Regions from separate parts of the Homo sapiens genome. Here all the other regions are linked to region 5. Evidence: fine-mapped expression QTL. A gene starts in region 5. Each other region holds a variant in brackets. All regions are shown on one strand. Distances are from middle to middle.

The links. PIP is the estimated chance that this variant, and not a neighbour inherited with it, causes the effect. A credible set is the group of variants that fine-mapping cannot tell apart.
Region 1: its variant is the best candidate, but not a certain one, in a credible set for the expression of CYBRD1 in whole blood (INTERVAL, PIP 0.84).
Region 2: its variant is the best candidate, but not a certain one, in a credible set for the expression of CYBRD1 in blood mononuclear cells (TOPMed, PIP 0.73).
Region 3: its variant is the best candidate, but not a certain one, in a credible set for the expression of CYBRD1 in monocytes (Fairfax 2014, PIP 0.82).
Region 4: its variant is the best candidate, but not a certain one, in a credible set for the expression of CYBRD1 in whole blood (TOPMed, PIP 0.70).

Annotation. Positions count from the first base shown.
Region 1 is chr2:171,499,101-171,503,221 of GRCh38, reverse strand. No RefSeq gene overlaps it. Among named protein-coding and RNA genes, the nearest start is that of CYBRD1, 21 kb to the left of the region's middle. The variant GATATGAGTGGCCAAT/T (reference allele first, on the strand shown) is at 1,794.
Region 2 is chr2:171,549,882-171,554,002 of GRCh38, reverse strand. CYBRD1 (cytochrome b reductase 1) reads right to left here. Exons shown (of 4, transcript NM_024843.4): 3 at 503-657. Among named protein-coding and RNA genes, the nearest start is that of CYBRD1, 29 kb to the right of the region's middle. The variant A/G (reference allele first, on the strand shown) is at 1,760.
Region 3 is chr2:171,561,484-171,565,604 of GRCh38, reverse strand. No RefSeq gene overlaps it. Among named protein-coding and RNA genes, the nearest start is that of CYBRD1, 41 kb to the right of the region's middle. The variant T/AGT (reference allele first, on the strand shown) is at 1,960.
Region 4 is chr2:171,585,282-171,589,402 of GRCh38, reverse strand. It overlaps the pseudogene RPL21P38. Among named protein-coding and RNA genes, the nearest start is that of CYBRD1, 65 kb to the right of the region's middle. The variant C/G (reference allele first, on the strand shown) is at 1,667.
Region 5 is chr2:171,520,266-171,524,386 of GRCh38, reverse strand. It overlaps CYBRD1 (cytochrome b reductase 1), which reads right to left and starts at 1,913. Exons shown (of 4, transcript NM_024843.4): 1 at 1,649-1,913. The coding sequence starts at 1,841. RefSeq lists silencers at 1,275-1,344, 1,495-1,604 and an enhancer at 1,715-1,824.

The sequences.
Region 1 (4,121 bases), 21 kb after region 5:
GTCCCAGCTGTGTGGGAGGCTAAGGTGGGAGGATTGCTGGAGCCCAGGAGGCAGAGGTTGCGGTGAGCTGAAATGGTGCTACTACACTCCAGCATGGGTGACAAAGTGAGACCCTGTCTGAAAAATAAATAAATAAAAATAAAATAAATTGGACTTTATCCAAATTAAAAACTTTTGTACATCAAAGAACACTATCAAGAACAGTGAAAAGACAACTTACAGAATGGGAGAAGGGAGAAAATATTTGCAAATCATACATCTGATAAAGGTCTAACATCCAGAAAAAGAACTCTTAATCACTCAACAACAAAAATACAAACAATCCAATTTAAAAATGGGGAAAGGACTTGAAAAGATATTTCTCAAAGAAGATAAAAAATGGCCAAGAAGCACATGAAAAGACGATCAACATCGTTAGTCTTTAGGGAAATGCAAATCAAAACCACAATGAGATATCACTTCATACCAACTAGTATAGCTATAATTTTTTAAAGGGGAAAATAATAAGCTTTGGTAAGGATTTGAAGAAATAGAATGGCTATAACTTTTTTAAAGGGAAAATAATAAGCTTTGGTAAGGATATGAAGAAATAGAGATCCTCATACATTGCTTATGGAAATGTAAAATGGTATGGATGCTGTGGAAAAGGGTGTGACAGTTTCTCAAAAAGTTAAACATAGAATATGACCCACCAATTCCACATCTAGGAATATACCCCAAGGAATTGAAAACCGGTACCCAAAGACATACAGGTACATGCATATTCATAGAAGCACTATTCACAATACTTTAAAGGTGGAGACAACCCAGATGCCCATCAATTGATGGATAAACATATTGTGGCATACACATACCATGGAATGTTAATCAGCCCTGAAAAGGAATGAAATAGCGACACATATTACAACATGAATGAATTTTGAAAACGTTATACTAAATGAAAGAAGCCAAACACAAAAAGTCACATATTATATGAATTCATTTATATGAAATATCTAGATTAGGCAAATTCATAGAGATAGAATACAGATTAGTGGTTGCCAAGGGCTATGGGGAAGGGAGACTGGAGAGTAACTGTTTAATGACTATAAAGTTTCCTTTTGGAGTAATAAAAATGTTTTGGAACTAGATAGAGATGTTGGTTGTACAATATCATGAATATACTAAATGCCACAGCATTGTTCACTTTTAATGGTTAATTTTATGTTATGTATATTTACCTCAGTTTTAATTTTTATTGATTGATTGACTGACTGATTGATTCAGATAGGATCTTGCTCTGTTGTCCAGACTGGAGTGCAGTGGTGTGATACTATTTCACTGCAGCCTTGAACTCTCGGGCTCAAGCAATCCTCCTGCCTCAGCTGCCAGAGTAGCTGGGACTACAGGCATGCGCCACCATGCCTGACTAATTTTTTAAAACTTTTTATAGAGACAGAGTCTCGCTATGTTGCCCAGGCTGGTCTCGAACTCCTGGGCTCAACTGATTGTCCTGCCTCGGCCTCCTAAAGTGTTTGGATTATAGGCATGAGCCACTGCACCCAGCCTCACCTCAATTTTTTAAAAATTTGAATATTTGAGAAAAAATTTCTATATACTTGAGAAAGTTCTGGTATTCAGGGTATAAAAGGAATATCTACAACTCAAGATGTACACAACTCAATGTGTTGGGAATATCTACAGGAATATCTACAACTCAATGTATTGTTTCTATAAGCACAAACAACACATTTCTTAAAAAATGGCCCAGAGATTTGAACAGATACTTTACCATAAAAGATATGAGTGGCCAA[GATATGAGTGGCCAAT/T]AAGCACATAATTTTCTGTTCCTTTACGATCTTTTTCCTCCTTGTAGTTTAATGTTTTCTAATAGCCTGTCTTTCATTCACTAATCCAATCCTGCTGTTTCCAGTCTGTTGTTAAAGCCATCCAGTGAGTTCTTAATTTCACAGATTATGTGTTTCAGTTCTAGAATGTTCATCCTGTTTTTTAAAATATATTTCAATTCCATGTTGAAATTCTCCATGTTTTCATCCATCTTATCTATATTTTCCTCTAACTTAACATATTTATAACAGTTAAAGTCTTTGCTATTTCTGATATCTGGATCCTCCATTGGTCTACTTCTATTGTTAATATTTTCTCTTGGTCATTGGTCATATTTTTCTGCTTCTTTTTTTCTTTTCTTTTCTTTCTTTTTTTGAGACAGGGTCTCACTCTCTTGTCCAGCCAGTGGAGTGCAGTGGTACGGCCAGGACTCACTGCAGCCTTCACCACCCAGGCTCAAGCAGTCCTCCCACCTTAGGCTCCTAGTAGTTGGGGCTACAGGCATGTGCCACCATGCCCAGGTAATTTTTGTATTTTTTGTACAGATGAGGTTTCACTATGTTGCCCAGGCTGGTCTTAAACTCCTGGGCTCAAGTGATCTGCCTGCCTTAGCCTCCCAAAGTGCTGGGATTATAGGTGTGAGCCACCATGCCTGGACAGGTTTTCTGCTTCTTTACATGTCTTTTATTATATGACAGACCTTGTGTACAAGAGATGAAGGCTCCAACTGACATCTCTTACTAGTGGGTATTCCTCCTTTCCTCAGTTAGACAGATAGACTGAAGGACAGTCCACTCCAATCAGTGATTGAGTTGGGTCAGGGCTTTTAATTGAGAGTTTGTAAAGTCCTGATTTTACAAGTCCTAATTGAGTCCTCAGCCCTGAAAACATGAAGTCCTGTGCTTTCGAGGTGTGAGCTTAGCTCTTTGGCCTCCATTGTTATGGGCCGAATTGTGTCCCTCACAAATTCATATGTTGAGGTCCTAACCCCCAATACCTCACAATGTGATTATATTTGGAGATGGGGTCTTTAAAGAGGCAATTAAGTTTAACTGGGCTCATTAGGCCGGGCGTGGTGGCTCACCCTGTAATCTCAGCACTTTGGGAGGCCAAGGTGGGTGGATCACCTGAGGTCAAGAGTTTGAGACCAGCCTGGTGAAACCCTGTCTCTACTAAAAATACAGAAATTAGCTGGATGTGGTGCCTATAGTCCCAGCTACTCAGGAGGCTGAGACAGGAAAATTGCTTGAACCTGGGAGGTGGAAGTTGCAGTGAGCCGAGATCGCGCCACTGCACTCCAGCCTGGGCCACAGAGCGAGACTTCATCTCAAAAAAAGATAATAAAATAAAAAAATTAAAAGGCGGGGGGTTCATTAGGGTGGGTAGTGGGTAATGTGACTATGTCCTTATAAGAAGAGGAGATTGGGACATAGACACACACATACAGGAAAGACCATGTGAGGACACAGGGAGGATACTGTTATCTACAAGCCAAAGAAAGAGGCCTCAGAAAAAACAACCCAATTGACATCTTTTTCTCCCCTCATTGGTCCATTGGGAGAAGACTAATTGACATCTTGATCTCCAGCTTCTAGCCTCCAGAAATGTGACAGTATAAATTTCTGTCTTTTAAGCTTTGTAGTCTGTGGTACTTTGTTATGGCATTCCTAGCAAACTAATACTGTGTCAGTCCATTTTTTTGTTTGTTGCTATAAAGGAATACCTGAGGCTGGGTAATTTATAAAGAAAAGTTTATTTGTCTCACAATTCTTCAGGCTGAACAAGCATGTCACCAGCATGAGTGACAGACTAGTTGTGAATTTGTGAAAGACTCCTTTCCCTTCGTAGAATTTTTTTCCCTAAGCAGAACAAGACAATGGGAGAGTTCAGTTTGCCTTTTTGGCCCAGCTCCCAGCCTCACAGATCACCCTAAAACTCAGAAAATGTCTCACGGGAAACTAGCCTTGCATTTGGGCTCTTCCAGTTTCTTATAGGTCACAACAGCCCTGTGCGACTGTCAAAAGTTCTACTGGTTTCTCCTTCTTCTACTAGCGTCTTTCTGCCTGGGGGTCAGGCCCACAGGTGAAGAAAACAAAGACAATTGTTAGTTCACCTAGAGAGGGTTCTTACCCTTCTAGAATTTCAGTTCATCTATTCCTCCTTGTTCCAAAACTCTCTAATATCTTTAAAAGTATAATTTTGCAATTTATCCATTTTATTTTCTGATTGTTGCAGCAAAAACATTAGACTACCTCAAATTAATATAAACTGCTTATAAGTTAAAGTCTTCATTA
Region 2 (4,121 bases), 30 kb before region 5:
CCCTATCGGGCCGTTGAGTGGCTGCTCAGGCCACTCCCGCCCTGTGGAGTGTACTTTCATTTTCAGTAACTCTCTGCTTTTGTTGCTTCATTCTTTACTTGCTTTGTTTGTGTGTTTTGTCCACTTCTTTGTTCAAAACGCCAAGAACCTGGACACCCTCCACCAGTAACAGTTATCACTTAAAATTTTTAAAAAGGATGAAACAAAAATGTATGTACACTATAATTACAATTAATATAAAAACATGCATATCAACAAGATTGAAAGGGAATGTATAACTTCAATAGTTGTTTCATAAGAGTAATACAATTTGTCAGACTTTTTGGTCCTTCTAAACTTTTAGTAATATCATATTACCTATATGATATAACAAATTCTTTAAAATATTTTTTAATTTTAATATCTAAAAAATTTTGTTATATTTTTATTACATTTTCCCAGTGAACAAGTATTTAACATTTTGTGGCTTAAGTATTACAATTAAGAAGACTATGCAACTTACAGGGAAAAAATCAGTTTCTCTGTCAATCCCATAAGTGCTGTTGCAATCACTGTTCCAAAGATGACAATTCCAGAATAAACATGTATGGGCATGAGAAATGCTCGGAGAGAAAGCGGAGCCCATGGAAGCAGAAAGACTGAAAAACCTGAAAGAAGCTAAACACCAAAAAGTGCAAAGGTTATCATTTAATTTTAAGTTCTAAACTAATTTTAAATTATTTAAAAAGCAATATGTGTAATATGACAAAACCTTTCATATAGAACCAAAGGGTAGAAAATGAAGTTTCCTCGCTCCAGTTCCACTACCTAATGTAACCCCTTTTATCACCTTCTCATGGATCATTCCAGAAAATTTATTATCCCTATACATATTGTTCTGCATCTTGCTTTTTTCCCTTAACAGAATATCTTGGAAATCTTTTTCATACCTATACATTTACCTAATTTATTCCTTTTAATGGCTAATATCCTAAGGCTATAACAATTTATTTATACAGTTCTCTATGGATGTTTCTGTTTGGTTTTTGCTATCCTTAATCCGACTATAGTGAACATTCTGGTACTTACTTGTTTGTTTTTACCAATCTCCTAAGGTTGCTAAGTAGGAAGGGAAGGAAAAGATTTTTTAAATCACTAAAACCGAGTACATTAGGACACAGAATTTAGTCAGTTCAACCTAAAAAGCTATGTGGAATGAAGTTGATTTTTGTTTTATGAGAAAGAAATGAATTCTGCAGAAAAGGTGTCTTCATTTCCTTGATAATGAAATCGCTAGTGGGATACCTCTTTGCAGAGAAGACAGCAAGGTTCCTATATAAACTGAAGTCTGTTGCGCTTTCACGGTTTTGTCACCCCACACGTTTGCCCATCAAGTATCCTCTCTTCAACAAGATAAAGATGACTTTGTGGTTACTGAATTACTGAGTTTAAAGGAACATTTTTTTTCAGATGCCTATTTAGGATCTACCATCCTAGCAAAACAATTATGAAAAGAGAGGAGAGTGGGGAGAAAGCACTAACATCACTGTTCAGCTTTCTTGATTGAGATCCAAGGGCTAATGGGGAGACAGAAGAAGGGAGGCAGGGGGAGGGGTCCAACGCCCTAATTCACACTGAGAATCAGCTCATGTGTAATACCAAGTAGTAATAAATGGAAACTGATAACAAAACAATTTGTATGATTTGTCACTTTAACAGACTGCAGAGGAAAAATCATATAATCATCAAAACAGATGGTGAAAAACATTGGTAGGATTCA[A/G]CAGTCATGTATGAGATGTTTTAACAAACTAGGAATGGAAGATGATTATTTTAATCTGATTATATTAGGACAGAACATGCTATAGGAACTAACAGGCTCCATTTTCAAGAGCTTAACATATAAAAGTATATTTCTTGCTCACACACAGTCTGCTTATGGTCTATAGGCATTTCAGAGTAGCTCTCTTCCAAGACATGACTCAGATCTAGAAGGGATTTGTCTTATATCCCTTATCACCTATTCCTATTCAGCATTTTTCTGAAAGTCTCAGCTACTGAGTTAAGCAAGAAAAAAAAATGATGATAGAAAAAGAAACAAAACTTATTAATCACATAAGATTATAAAACACAATCCAAAAGAATCTTGAGATTAATTACTAACATAAGTTTATCAAGTTTGCTAGGTATAAATTTATACTTGAGATCAGTTGCACTTTTTGTAAAGAGGCAACAAGTGAATTAATTTTTAATGATACCATTTTTAATAGCAAGGAGCTAGCAATAAGTTGGAGACAACAACTCTACAAAGAAAATATAAAGCTTTGCAATATTTTGGAGAAGGCTAAAAAAACAGGCTCAGGATAATGAGTTGGAAGACTTGTATTATACAGATGTCGGTTCTCAAATTCATCTATAGATTAAATAAAATCCTAATAGATTTTTGGTGGAATTTGATGCATTGATTCTAAAATTTACATAGATCAAAGGGCCAAGAATAGCCAAGATTAACTGTTGTTTTCTGAAGTATATCCTAATACAATAAATTCTGTAATTTATATTTAAAAAGTAATAACAAATGCATTTGATAGGTTGGTTTGCATATTTTATTATTTAGTTAATAACCAAAATGCCTGAATATATTAGAAATGGTTCAGAGGGTTCCCTCTTGGTGGTTCAGAATATTCCTAAATCTTCTTCAGTGAACTTCAGTGATTCTATTAGTATCAAAGGGCAAGCTTCCTGATGTCCATGTTGTGCTTTCTATATGAAAATGGGGGCTGAGTGTGGTGCCTCACGCCTGTAATCCCAGCACTTTGGGAGGCCAAGGTGGGAAGATCACTTGAGTCCAGGAGTTCAAGACAAGCCCGGGCAACATGGCGAAACCCCATCTCTACAAAAAATTAGCTGGGCATGGTGGTGCACGTCTGTGGTCCCAGCTACTGTGGATGCTGAGGCAGGAGGATTGCTTGAGTCCTGGAGATGGAGGTTGCAGTGAGCTGAGATTGTGCCATTGCACTCCAGCCTGGGTGACAGAGTGAGACCCTGTCTAAGAAAGAAAAAAGAAAAGAAAGGAAAAGAAAATGGGGCTCAGGGATATAGCACAAATATATCTCCATAAATCATCATATCTTTTCTGTGGCTTACCCATAGAAACATATATTTCTCATTCCTGCTCTCCTATTTTCATTCCTAAGATTCTTTCTGTTTTCTCTCATTTCCTCCATAATTTGTCATGTGTGTCTCTTACAATCCTGTAGGGCTCAACAGTCTAAGCAGGTAGGAGGTCAGAAATTTGCTTACAGGATCCCTGAGCAACTTAACTACCCTAAATCTGACTTTCACCATTAAACATTTTTTGCAACAAAAGAAAATTACATTTAAAAGGAAAAGAAAAACATTACAGAATGCTTAACTTTGATTAAAAGTGTTCTGAATGCTGCAATAATGCATATTTATAATTTATAATAACTTATAATTTATAAATAATCATTATTTCCTTTTAACTATCTTAATCTTACTACCTTACAAGTGAAGGTGATAATTTATAACCTAGTGGACCGAAAATTATAAGACCTTTTGTCTCTCTAAGTCAGTACTGGAAGTGCTGTTCACAGAAGGCATGCATTTAAAGGGATGCCTGCTGTAATCCCAGCACTTTGGGAGGCCGAGGCAGGAGGATCACTTGAGATCAGGATTTTAAGACCAGCCTGGCCAACATGTCAAAACCCCATCTCTACTAAAAATACAAAAACTAGCCAGGCATGGTGGCACATGCCTGTAGTCCCAGCTACTCTGGAGGCTGAAGCAAGAGAATTGCTTGAACCCGGATGGCGGAGGTTGCAGTGAGCTGACATTGTGCACTTCAGCCTGGGTGACAGAGCAAAGCTCTGTCTCAAGAACAAAAACAACAACAACAAAAAAATAAAAAATAAAAAGATGCCTGGGCCACATTCTGACCTGCTAAATCCAATTTCTGGATTAGGGCCCAGGAATCTGTATTTTTAACAAACTGCCCAGACGATTCTTACGTATGTTGAAGTTTGAAAATGACTGCTGTTGATTCACTCAAATTATTCTAGAGATATGGATAAACAGTCTGGAAAACCCTCAAAAGAGAAGGTAGTGGAATATTCCATTATATA
Region 3 (4,121 bases), 41 kb before region 5:
ACACCATGTTTGGGAATTTACCACCGTGATCTGTAATTTCTCTTATTGCTTTTTGCTCAGGGTTTCATCCCTCCTCCCTGCCCTCCAAGCTAATCTGGGCCAAGTGGATTCTGTTCTGACCCATCTCTAACTCTTTACTCAGTCTATTCCTTACCCTATTTTGCCTTTTTTTCTTTTCTTTTTTTTTTTTTTTTTTTGACATAGAGTTTCACTCTGTTGCCCAGGCTTAAGTGCAGTGGCACAATATCAGCTCACAGCAACCTTCGCTTCCTGCCTCCCGGGTTTAAGCGATTCTCCTGCCTCAGCTTACGGAGTAGGTGAAATTAAAGGTGTGTGCCACCACACCTGGCTAATTTTTTGTATTTTTAATAGAGACTGGGTTTTGTTATGTTGGCCAGGCTGGTCTTGAACTCCTGGCCTCAAGTGGTCGGCCCGCCTCAGCCTCCCAAAGTGCTGGGATTATATCTGTGAGCCACTGTGTCTGGTCCCATTTTTGCCTCTTTTGTCACTTTTACAAAGCCTACTAACTGTCTCTCTTTTTTGGAGCCCTCGATACCTAGATTACAAAGGTTTATTCCAGTTGTAAGCCATGAGAATTGTAGGTAATTCTGTGCTGAAGGATGGAAATGGTGTATGAATTAAACTGGCTGCAATAGTCTATAAAATAACAGATTCATAGCTTTCAGCATGAGCCCCAGGCAGTGCCTAGGAGCAGTGCACACAAGACATCCTCAATCACTAATTGGTGAGTGAATATAAAAGGACCTGTTTTTTGTAGCAGATGGAGAGATTAAGCGGCTTGCCCAAGATTACACCCGTGGACCATGATAGAGTTCCTACAAGAATCCAGATTTTTCTGTTTTGTCCAGTTCTTACAAGTATATACTGCCCAGCTTCCAGTGATTGCATGACCTTCGGAAGACTTGTAAATGTTTATGTCTCTGCGATCTGGAGATTAACAATGCTGCAAAGCAAATAGTCCCTCAGGCCATTCCGGTATCTGACCAAGTTAGGATCTTGGCAAATGCTTTAGTTCCTCTTTCCTGGTGTTAGGAAAACATTTATTTCAATTATAAATATATTATCTTCAATTTCTTGATAAATTAGACTAAGCAAACATTTGGATGATGTCAATGAGGCAGACGGGATTCCGATAATACATGTTTTTCTTAGTACAAAAGTGATACTTAATTATAGAAAATACAGAGAAAACAAAAAGAAGAAAATGAAAAATGCCCATTATCCTACCATGTCTCAAAGATAACCATTTTTTAACATTATTTTATTTTATTTTACTTTATTTTTTGAGACAGAGTCTTGCTCTGTCACCCAGGGTGGAGTGCAGTGGTGCGATCTCGGCTCACTGCAAGCTCTGCCTCCCAGGTTCAAGTGATTCTCCTGCCTCAGCCTCCCAAGTAGCTGGGATTACAGGCCCGCACCACCACATCTGTCTTTTTTTTTTTCCTTTGTACTTTTAGTAGAGACAGGGTTTCACCATGTTGGCCAGGCTGGTCTCTGACCTTAGGTGATCCACCCACCGTGGCCTCCCAAAGTGCTGGGATGACAGGCATGAGCCACCACACCAGGCCAAAGATAACCATTATTAACTAATTAACTATTTGGTATATTATGCCTCCAGTTATTTGAAAGTGTATGCACATTCACATTTACAAACTCTTTTATATTCAATTTCTTTCACTTAATATTTTATGAACATATTTTCATATTGCTAATTATTCACTTGAACAATATAATTTTTGATGACATAGTTTTTGTATAGTGTAACTTTGTATTTGGCCATTCTTTATTAGACATTGTTTCCAAATACAAGAAATCTTTAAGATGATTTGCCACACAGATACAATCACTACAGTGGTGATTCTCAGTCTCTACTTGCACTCCATTCGCAATCCAGTGCTCTGTTAAATGAGACAGAGACAGAGAGAGAGAGAGAGAGAG[T/AGT]GAGAGGTTGAGAGAGAGAGAATGGAGGAAGGCTAGGCAAGGAGAGGCCTGAATCCTAATCATCACTCCACACTTTTCCACACCCTTGAGTTTTATTTGCACTTTTGCTTGCTCTTGGGGTGAATTAGCTCACACTTAAGGCTGTCACTGCTCCTCTTGCCTCACACCCTTTTACTTCCTTCATTTGAGTGTTCCAGGTGAGTTCACTGGGCCAGAACCTCCTACAATCTGCTCAAGACCTAGAGGTTTGAATGGGGAATGTGAGCGCTGATAGAGACAGGGAGCCAGGTCGTGGGTTGGGGAGGGCAAGGATGCTTCCTGCCCTCCTCCTTCATCACTAGTGGCTACTCTAGGGCCTGCCTGTGTGTGCCAGGGCTGAGCTAGGGCCTGGCCCCCTGGAGTTCTACAGAGTCCCTCTGGTACCTGAGCCACAAGAGAGGCACCTGTTCAGGAAATCTCATCAGAATCTAAACTTTAAGAGGAATCTCAGAACTTATCCATTTCAACATTCACCCAATGCTTATATTTCTCTTTTTCACCTTCATTCCACAAGAGAGAAATTTGTGACATGTCTCAGTCTAGCCTTAATGTGATAAGATTCATATAAATAGATATGAGAATATAGAAAACATTTATTTGGACTAGACTTCAGACTAAATTTCTGCCATAACATTCACCAAACTAAGGGATTGCTTATGTACAGTTCTGACCCTGAGGCTGACAACCAGATATTCTTCCCGTTGAAACAGAAAAACTCATACTATTCCACTCAGCCTAGAAATTTCCTAGTTATGTACCAGTAGATATTATACCAACCAGATTGCCAACTGTATTTGAAAGTCAATCAGAAAGCTTCTCCTTCCAAAATTCTCACCCTAATAGAACACTCACCAGCCAAATCCTGCATGAGCCGTCTTCCTTTCACTCTATAAACCTCACTCGCCTATCACGCCCCTTGAGTGGCTACCAGAAGGAAAGTGATCATAGCTAACTCACTCTAGTCAGATCTGAAAAAACAGGTTTCAGATAATTCTATAGACATTGTCTTTTTGACAAAACAAAAATGTATTCTTATGGATTGGTGATATAAATGAGCACTGCCCTGTGGGCTACCTCTGACATGAACAAAGGTCGGCAGACATGTGCTCCTGGACCGCTCCCGTATCGAGCATCCTCACCCACCCAAATTGGCCTGTCCTTAGAATGGCTGGCCTTACGGGTTGTGCCTCTGTAGTGAGTGAGGGGAACCCTTTTCAGTTTGTGCTCCCCACTCCTCTATTCTAGCTCCCTGAAGCCTGCATCCTATGAAGATGTATTCTCTTGGTTCCAAGACAGTTCTTCATACAGCCGATAATCATGGAAGAAAGTCCACATTCCTTTAAGAAGAGATGTGGACCCGGGGAATAAATGGTAAGGAGTTGTTTGAAATGCTTGTTCCCAGGTGCTGTAAAGAAATAGTACTTGAACATAAATTTAATTTATTTAGTAAGGCCATTTTTACTTCCTGCAGAAAGAGTACACTCACCAGAAGTTTTGCCCTTGGTGAGAAATGTATCCAGCCTATACCGGCTTATCCTCATTCCAAAACACTAAAGCAACTAACAGGGTTCCTTGGCATAACAGGCTTCTGCCGAATATGGATTCCCAGGTACGGCGAAATAGCCAGGTCATTATATACACTAATTAAGAAAACTCAGAAAGCCAATACCCATTTAGTAAGATGGACACCTGAAGCAGAAGTGGTTTTCCAGGCCCTAAAGGCCCTAACCAAGCCCCAGTGTTAAGCTTGCCAACAGGGCAAGACTTTTCCTTATATGCAACAGAAAAAAACAGGAATAGCTCTAGGAGTCCTTACACAGGTCCGAGGGACCAGCTTGCAACCCATGGCATACTTGAGTAAGGAAACTGATGCAGTGACAACGGGTTGGCCTCATTTTTTACTGGTAGTGGCAGCAGTAGCAGTCTTAGTATCTGAAGCAGTTAAAATGATACAGGGAAGAGATCTCACTGTGTGGAGACTTGTGGCTGTCAGACAACCATTTGCTTAAACATCAGGCTCTATTACTTGAGGGACCAGTGCTGCGACTGCACACTTGTGCAACTCTTAATCCAGCCACATTTCTTCCAGGCAATGAAGAAAAAAATAGAACATAACTGTCAAC
Region 4 (4,121 bases), 65 kb before region 5:
CTATCTCTGAACTTATATCACAGTCTTAATTATGATGATTTTATATCAATTCTTAATACCTGGTAGTAGTGTAATTACTGACACTTGTTCTTCTTCAGGATTATTTTGGCTATCTTTGGCCCTTTGCTTTGCTATATAAAATATATAAATTTTAGGGTCAGCTTGTCAAGTTCTGTGAATAGAAAGTCATTAAATCTACAGCTTATTTTAGGGAAATACTATTTGTATCTTCTTTTTGTCTTTTACTGAAGTTTTTATTATTTTTTTCTGTAAAAGCCTTCACATTTTTGTTAGATTTACTCCAAAGGTGTCTTTTTTTTAATTGCCGTTGTAATTGGCATCTTTAATTGTGTGTTCTAAATATTTGTTGCTGAAGTATACATGTGTAATTGTATTTTGTATATTGACCTTACTTAAGGCAGACTTGCTAAGCTCCTATGAAGTCTAATGGCTTTTTGATGGAGTTTTTGAGTTTCCTAGCAAGATATTCACAAGTAGGAATAGTTTGTTTCTTTCAGGTCCTCATACCTTTTATTCCTCTTTCCCATTTTAAGGGCAAGCTAGATCACCTAGTACAATGTTACAGAAGTGGTGAGAACAGTCATCTTTACCGTGTTCTTAGTTTTAAAGAAAATGCTTTTTAAGGTCTCACCATTAAGTGTGATATGTGCTGTTAGATTTTTGCAACTTCCCTTTATCATGTTAGATAGTTTCCTTTTAGCCTTCATTTACTAAGAATTTTTAAAATCATTGATGACTAGATTTAATCAATTGCTGTTTTTTGTATCTATTGAGCTAATAATATTTTTTCATTAATCTGATAATGTGGTAAATTACTCTAATGTGAAATTAAGCTTTTATTGTAGGAATAAACTATCTTGGTCACAATAGATTAACTTCTTTATACATTGCTGATTTGATTTGCTAAATTTTTAAAAGGATTTTCAAATAAATTACACTGGCTTGAACGTTTCTTTTCCAGGTCTTTATCTGGTTTTAGTATCAAAATTACACTAGCCTTATATAATGAGTTGGATGCTCATCTCTCTTTTTCTATTCTCTGCAAGACTTCACATATGATTGCACTGATCTCTTGAATGTTTGGTTGTGCTTACCTTTTGAACTAACTAGGCCTGGTGTTTTCTCTGTTGGAAAAATTATAGCTAGTAATTAAATATATTTAGTGATAATAGCAGAGCTGTCTTTTTTTATAAATTATTTTATTTCTTCCAAAATTCTTTTTTTTTTTTTTTTTTTTTTTTTTTTTGAGATAGAGTTTTGCTCTGTCACCTAGGCTGGAGTCCAGTGGTGTGATCTCAGCTCACTGCAACTTCCACCTCTCGGGTTCAAGCAATTCTCATGCCTCAGCCTCACAGTAGCTGAGATTACACGCATGTGCCACCACGCCCAGCTAATTTTTATATTTTTAGTAGAGACAGGGCTTTGCCATGCTGGCCAGGCTGGTCTCAAACTCCTGGCCTCAAGTGATCCGCCCTCCTGGGCTTCCCAAAGAGCTGGGATTTCAGGTGCGACCCACTACGCCCAGCCCCATGATGATTTAGAGGGACTATCTTCAAACCAGTACAAACAGTTCATAAATAACATCTGCCCGTTTTCTAACCAATTGAGTAATTTGTTGCACAATAAGCTACCTCACATCTTTCAG[C/G]AAGAAAAACTTTAAATTAGAATAGTAAAGATATTACACAATGAATTAGGACACAATTAAAATTTGCTTTAAATGTATCTTTGTGGGAGATGACACCACACTTCTACTCAATGAAGAGAAACATTTTTACAGTCCAGAGGTCTTTGATATTTTAAACATCTATTAAGCCATGAATTCATAGGGAATAGGTTCCAGCAGCTCAGGCTTCTTCCCGCTGGTTCTCACAAAGTGTGTTTCTCTGGGTGGAGCAGGCTGGCACTTCAGCTGAACCCGGGTAGCTTTCTCTTTGGCTTCCTTCTTTTTCTGATCATTTTCCTTCATGTGTTTCAGGAAACTATCAGGGATCTTAGAATGTTTAACATGCTCAATATGCACATTAATTTTCTTGGCAAGAATCTTGCCCTTAGCTTGTTTGTTTATAACAATGCCAACAGCACGCTGGGGAACACTGTAGACTCTCCCAGTTTTGCCATGGTTAACATTTGTGGGGCATTCCTTTTTGAACAGTATCCATTTTCTTGATGTCTACAATATCACCTTTCTCATAGATTCACATATACGTGGCCAAAGGAAAAACCCCATGTTTTCTAAAAGGCCTAGAGAACATATATCTGGTGCCTCTCCTCTTTTCCCGTGTTCATCATTTTGGCGAATTACTGGAAGACGGAGGTTCCAGCCAAAAGGCAATAGCAGAGCTTTCTATCTGGTGTGTTCTGAGTGGGCCTCAGAGATTTTAAACACTCAGCCCTGAAGAGGCCAAGTCAGATGGGTGAGAAGTGGATGTGGGGCTGCTGGAGGCCCTGGCCAAGTTGCCTCTGGTCATAAGCATTCTGATCTCTCTTTTTTGTTGTTTTTGAGTATGATCTCACTCTGTCACCCAGGCTAGAGTAAACAGTGGTGCCAATGTGGCTTACTGCAGCCTCAACCTTCCATGCTCAAGCGATCCTCCCACCTCGGCCTCCCAAAGTGCTGGGATTACTGGCATGCATCACCATGCCCAGCCCTATTTCCATGTCTTTACCCTACTGTGCCATTGAGGTATTTTGCCATTGAGGTACTGGGGAGACAAAATAACCTCCAGTCAAGAATCACTACTCCAGGGCCTGAAATCCTGTCTTTAAACTTCTGCCTGATGCCCAGAGTCCTGGTATCTGCTGACAAAACCTCCTAATACCAAACACAAGGCAATTTCTCCAAATATAGCTTATTCCTGGCGTTCCCATGGCCATGCCCCGCTGTCTTGGGAAGATGCTGCTGTAATTCTCACAGCCTCTTTCTCATGCCAACAGCTTGGCTGGACTGTCGATTGCTCTTTAGGGAGATACCATTTTCTCTGACTTGAGCAAGTGACCCTTTATCCCCCATAAGAAGATTTCCTATGGGGATGGGGTGGGGCTGGTTTCGGTCTTTGGATCTGTCCTGTTGAGATCCAGTTAGTTCTTCCAAGAGTGGCTGTGTCATGAGACATCACAGCGAGAATGTGTTTGTTTTCCTTGAGAAAGTAATCTTTCCAGTGGTTTTATGTGAGAGAGCCTGTCCTTTTCCTATGGAAGAAGACATGGAGTTTTCTGAAGGGGATAAATTGCCCCATTTGACTGTGTAACAAGTCAGTTGGGAATGAGCAGCAGAACCACAGAATTGCAGCCTTAATAGATGCCAGCAGTACAAAGGTGGTGGTGAGCTTAATAAGAGCCTTAGAGAGAGGGGGAGAGAGTGACTGATTGACTGAAAGCTTAGAGCAGAGAACAGAAGGAGGGAAAAAACATTGTGTAATGCTTTTCATAGAGAAAATAGTCTAAGAACCACAGGGTGGGGAGCAAGAGAAAAAGTGTAGAACAAATTGTACCTTGCACTATCCTAAACTTGGCCTAGTTAATTACAGTGGGATAGGCGGTGCCAAGAGGGCCCAGAGCCTGAGACAGATATGACATTGGGTGGAAATCCACTCAAGCATGTAAGAAATGGTATCCATGGCTTTAACATGTGAGAAGATTATTCCTCTCATGGGAAAACATGGCGGCTTTCTTTTGCTAGGTAGTCAAGGGCTTAGGTTTCTTCTCTCTTGTTCTGTGATGTGTTGGATGCTGCCTTTATCTTCATGAACAAGATGACCCACTCCCACTCCCATATTCCTGCTGGCAGAAAAAGCGAAAGAAGAGAATCATATCCCTTCATCTTAAAGGCATAACCCAGAAGTTATACACATTATTTTGACTTGCATTCCATTGGCCAAAACCTAGTCATCTGGCTAATATGGTCACACCTAGCTGCAAAGGAAGCTGGAGATTCTGGGAGGCCATGTGCTCAGATAAAAGCAGGGGTTTTCTCTGAGAAATTTCTCTACCACCACTAACCTGAGTGCTTCTTGTCCTCAATCTTCTTCCCTTTCCTCCAAATTCAATTTCCTAAAAGTCCAGAGAACACATCTGGCAGACCCATCCTCAGAAGACAGAAG
Region 5 (4,121 bases):
AGCAAACAAGGTGTAGACAGCTCGGGGCCAAACTTAAGGGCTCCACCACGAAGGAAAGAGTGCTTCTGACAGTTACTTTGGAACTTGAGTATGTTTTTTTCTTATAAGCATAGTGGCAAAATAACTGAGAGTTACGCAACGAAATGCCTTAGGTGCCCAGTGGTGCTCACACCCTGATGCCGATCTCACACCCTGATGCCGATCTCACACCAGGGAAGCCTTTGAATGCTGAGGGTTAGTAACACCTTCCACTACATTCCAGAGTGGGAGAATGCTGGCCACACTTGCCAAAGCTGCAGTACAAGTTTAAAACAACCAACAAAAACAAAAGCCAAAATCACTTTTCTTTAGGAATGAGGTCAGCACTCTTTTGCACACTCGTTTGTGGGGAGTTAAATATTTGGTGAAGAAAAGGCAGCCTGCCCGCAGGCAAAGCTAGAGATTTCGGCCAGTGGGCATATCTTTCCAAACCCTTGCTACTCCTCTCGATTATTTTCTGCGACATAACACCACTCCACCCCTTGCTGCCTTTCTCTAACTACTTTCTGAAGGCCGTGCCTTTGGGGAAGTGGTTACAAATAAATGGTGTTTGCGCCAAAAGCTAGAGGTTCCTCCAGCTACACGGCAAACCGAAGGAAGCAGTCAGGACATTGAGAGGCACTACACAATGACAACAAACATTGCCAGCGACTGCTGAGCCCCTCCCCCGCGCCAGCCTCAGCCCAGAGAATGCAGGCCCGGGGCTGGCTCGCCGCGGGCCAAACACGGACGCAGCTTGCGCCGGGGGCATCCCGAGCAGAGGCATCCCTCGGTGCCAGGCAGCCGCGGGCCCTCTCCGGGCATCTCCCACCCGGAGTGCTGGGCCAGTGCCCAATAGGAAGCCCCGCGGGGGAACTTTCGCCACTCTTCTGCCACATAAACAAGTCGGGCTCAAGACCGTCCAATGACTGGGCAGGGCGGCGAAACACACTTGGAAGTCCTGGCAGCTTCCCGGACTCGACTGAGTTTAACACTCTAGGAGGAGAGGAACCCAGGGCGGATGCTTCACTCGCCCCCCTTGGCCAGCCCCTTTACCCAGGGCCGAGGATGTTACAAATACGGGCAAATTCTCGCTCCGGCAATCTTTTCCCCGCTGCCTTCCCCTCCTCATCTGCAGCCTGGAAGCAAGTTCAGCAAAAGGCTGAGGCGAAAGTGTTTCCGCGCCCCCGATCGCGCAGGCTCGGTCCACAGGGGCGACTTTCCGGGGCGCGTGGGCTGCAGCGGCCCGACTGCGCGGCGCTCCGGCATCGCGCCCGGGCTCAAGTTTCTGGGTCTTGGAGGCCCCTCCAGTGCGTCCTAGCCAGTCGCCGCAAAGAGTTAACCAAGTGGGGCCGGCCCCGCTCCGCCGCCCCCAGCAGCGCGTCTCCACCGCGCACCCCCGGCCCCGCGCTCGCGGCGATCCTCCTGAACCGCAGCTCTGTCCCGCCCCAGAGCCAGCCAGCCTCCCTCCCGCCCAGCCGACTTGGCTTCCCGCGCGCTCCTCACCGCACTCCTCCGGGCCCCGCGATCCTCCAGCACTTCCTCAGCTGGAAGGGGCTTCACGGAGGACCCTCTGCCCCCGCCGTTCTCCCCGCTTTCCTCCCCGCACCCCCCCAGGAGGTGCCAGTACCGATGCCCTGGATGAAGACGAAGCCGGTGACCATGAGCACTGGGTGCCAGTTAAACTCTAGTGCGCTCCCATCCCAGCCAAGCCCCTCTCGGTAGTGGAGGACCCAGACGAGGGCGAAGATCACCGACAGGAAGCCGACGAGCAGTGCCGACCCCAGCAGCGCCAGGAAGCGCCAGTAGCCCTCCATGGCCATCAGCGCCCCATACTCCGCACCGCGGGGGCCACAAGAACTTGGAGAGGCGGCGGCAGCCCTCTGGGTAGTGGCCGGGCGGCGGGACCGGGGCGTCGACTTCTTGGGGCTGTCTCCGCCTGCGGGGAGGGACTTTCTGGGCTGCTGGCCCGGAATGTGGGGCCTCTTGGGGGTGGGGAGCTGGCCCCAACTCAGAAATGGGCCCCACCCCCGGGATCACGCGGCCGCCGAGGGCGCTCATTGCCTGGTGGCCTCACCCTCTCCCTCGTCCAGCATCCAAGCTCGCAGAGGGCTTCAGTAACAGACCTAGTTAGTTGCTCAAAGAGAAAATTCCGAGGATTTTATACTCACCACTTGCTTTTAACACTTCCCGTGTCTCGTCCTTATTTGTGGGGAGGTTGAGTAGGGCAGTGGTGCGCCCTCTTGGTTAAGAGAAGAGAGGGATCCGTTGGGTAGGGTTATGTGTGTGCTTTTAACTACTAACGAAGCCTCCTTAGCCACAGTGCTGGAGAATTGGCTGTCTCTGACATCAAAGGGTGTTAAGGAGGAACCTGTAAGGTGGTGTAAACTAAAAATAAAATCCTAAGCCCCTCACTGACTGAATGGACCTCCTTGGCCAAGCAGACCCCAGAAAAACCTTAAAGCTGAGTTTCTAGCTACAGCCGGAAGGGAAGTCTACCCCCTCCATTTTGGAATTTAGACTCAACAGCTGACTAGCATTAATGTTTAAAATAGAAATCATAAGGCGGACAGAACAGACTCTTTGTAGCAATAAGACATCAAATTATAAAAAGGACCTAAGTCACACACTCCTACACTTAAGAAATAAACTATGGTCTAACTGCCACAAAGGTTTTCTTTTCCTCTAGAGGCTAAACAAGCACTGGCTTGAGATAAGCAATATTAAAACAATTACAACTTAATCAGTTCACAGATGCTGACCAGCTGAACCCCTGTTGCACCAGCCAGAACTACAGCTTTCACTGGGCTGATTTCAGGAACTTTTTCATGATAAGAAGACCGACCATGGACCGGTTCTGGCCAGTGTACAGGGATTGTGCACTTGTATGCATTCACGTCCTGAAAAGACCTTTTGAAGTGTAGGTTTGAAGTAATACATTTAAATGTATTTGAAGTAATACAATTAAATGTTAAGTCTCCACCCCAAAGAGAACATGTTACATGCATGTTTGTTCAATATGCATGTGTAAGGACCACCTCCATTAATATTCATAGCTCCTCCTGTAACCTGTTACGTATGTATGTTTGGCCAAACTGTTCAGCATAAAGCTCCTACCCCAACCCCTCTGCCTTCCAAGTGCCTGTCTCTGGTCTTAGGCCAGAGGCTATGTTTATCAGCCTATGGAATGGCCTCCTTGCAGGCTATAACCTTTTATAAGAAATAAAGTCTCCTCTTTTTTCAAATTTATAATTTTTTGTTTTAAGTTAACAGTAAAGGCCAGGCGCAGTGCCTCACACCTGTAATCTTAGCACTTTGGGAGGCTAAGGCGGGCAGATCACTTGAGTCCAGGAGTTTGAGAACAGCCTGGGCAACAAGGTGAAACCCTGTCTCTACTGAAAATACAAATGCATGCACCTGTAGCCCCAGCTACTTGGGGGACTGAGGAAGGAGGATCACTTGAGCCCAGAAGGTCGAGGCTGCAGTGAGCTGAGGTTGCACCACTGCACTTCAGCTTGGGTGACAAAGTGAGACTCTGTCTCAAAAAAAAACAAAAAACAAAAAACAAAAAAAACCCAGTAAACCGGGTCCCCATGAGGTGTCTCACAGCTGTAATCCCAGGGCTTTGGGAGGTGGAGGCAAGAGAATCACTTGAGCTCAGGAGAGGTATGATCGCACCACTGCACTGCAGCCTGGTGACAGCTAGACTCTGTCTGGAAACAAAACAAAAACAGCATGGGCAGCGGTGGGCTTGGCCTTATCCTGCAATGAAACTACTTGCAGTTTGCTCTTGAGAGAGGGAAGACAGGAACCTCCTGGACCTGGACTTGCCGTTTAGTGTGACAAATGGATTTTCAAAGTGCCCGCCCACCCAAACCAATTTGAACCAAAGCCCCTCCTTGATGAAGTGAAGCTTGCTCCCTGCCCTCTTTCCAACATTATCCTCACCCTTCTCCACTGGACAAAAACAATGTCAGCATTATCTAATGCTATTATAAGAAAAAGGGTTCTGACTGCCAGGGCTTCCAGAATGCATTTGGGAACGTTCACTTCTAGCCCTCTTCTGTAGCTCATCTCCAAGGACTACTTTGCTATATTGTCTT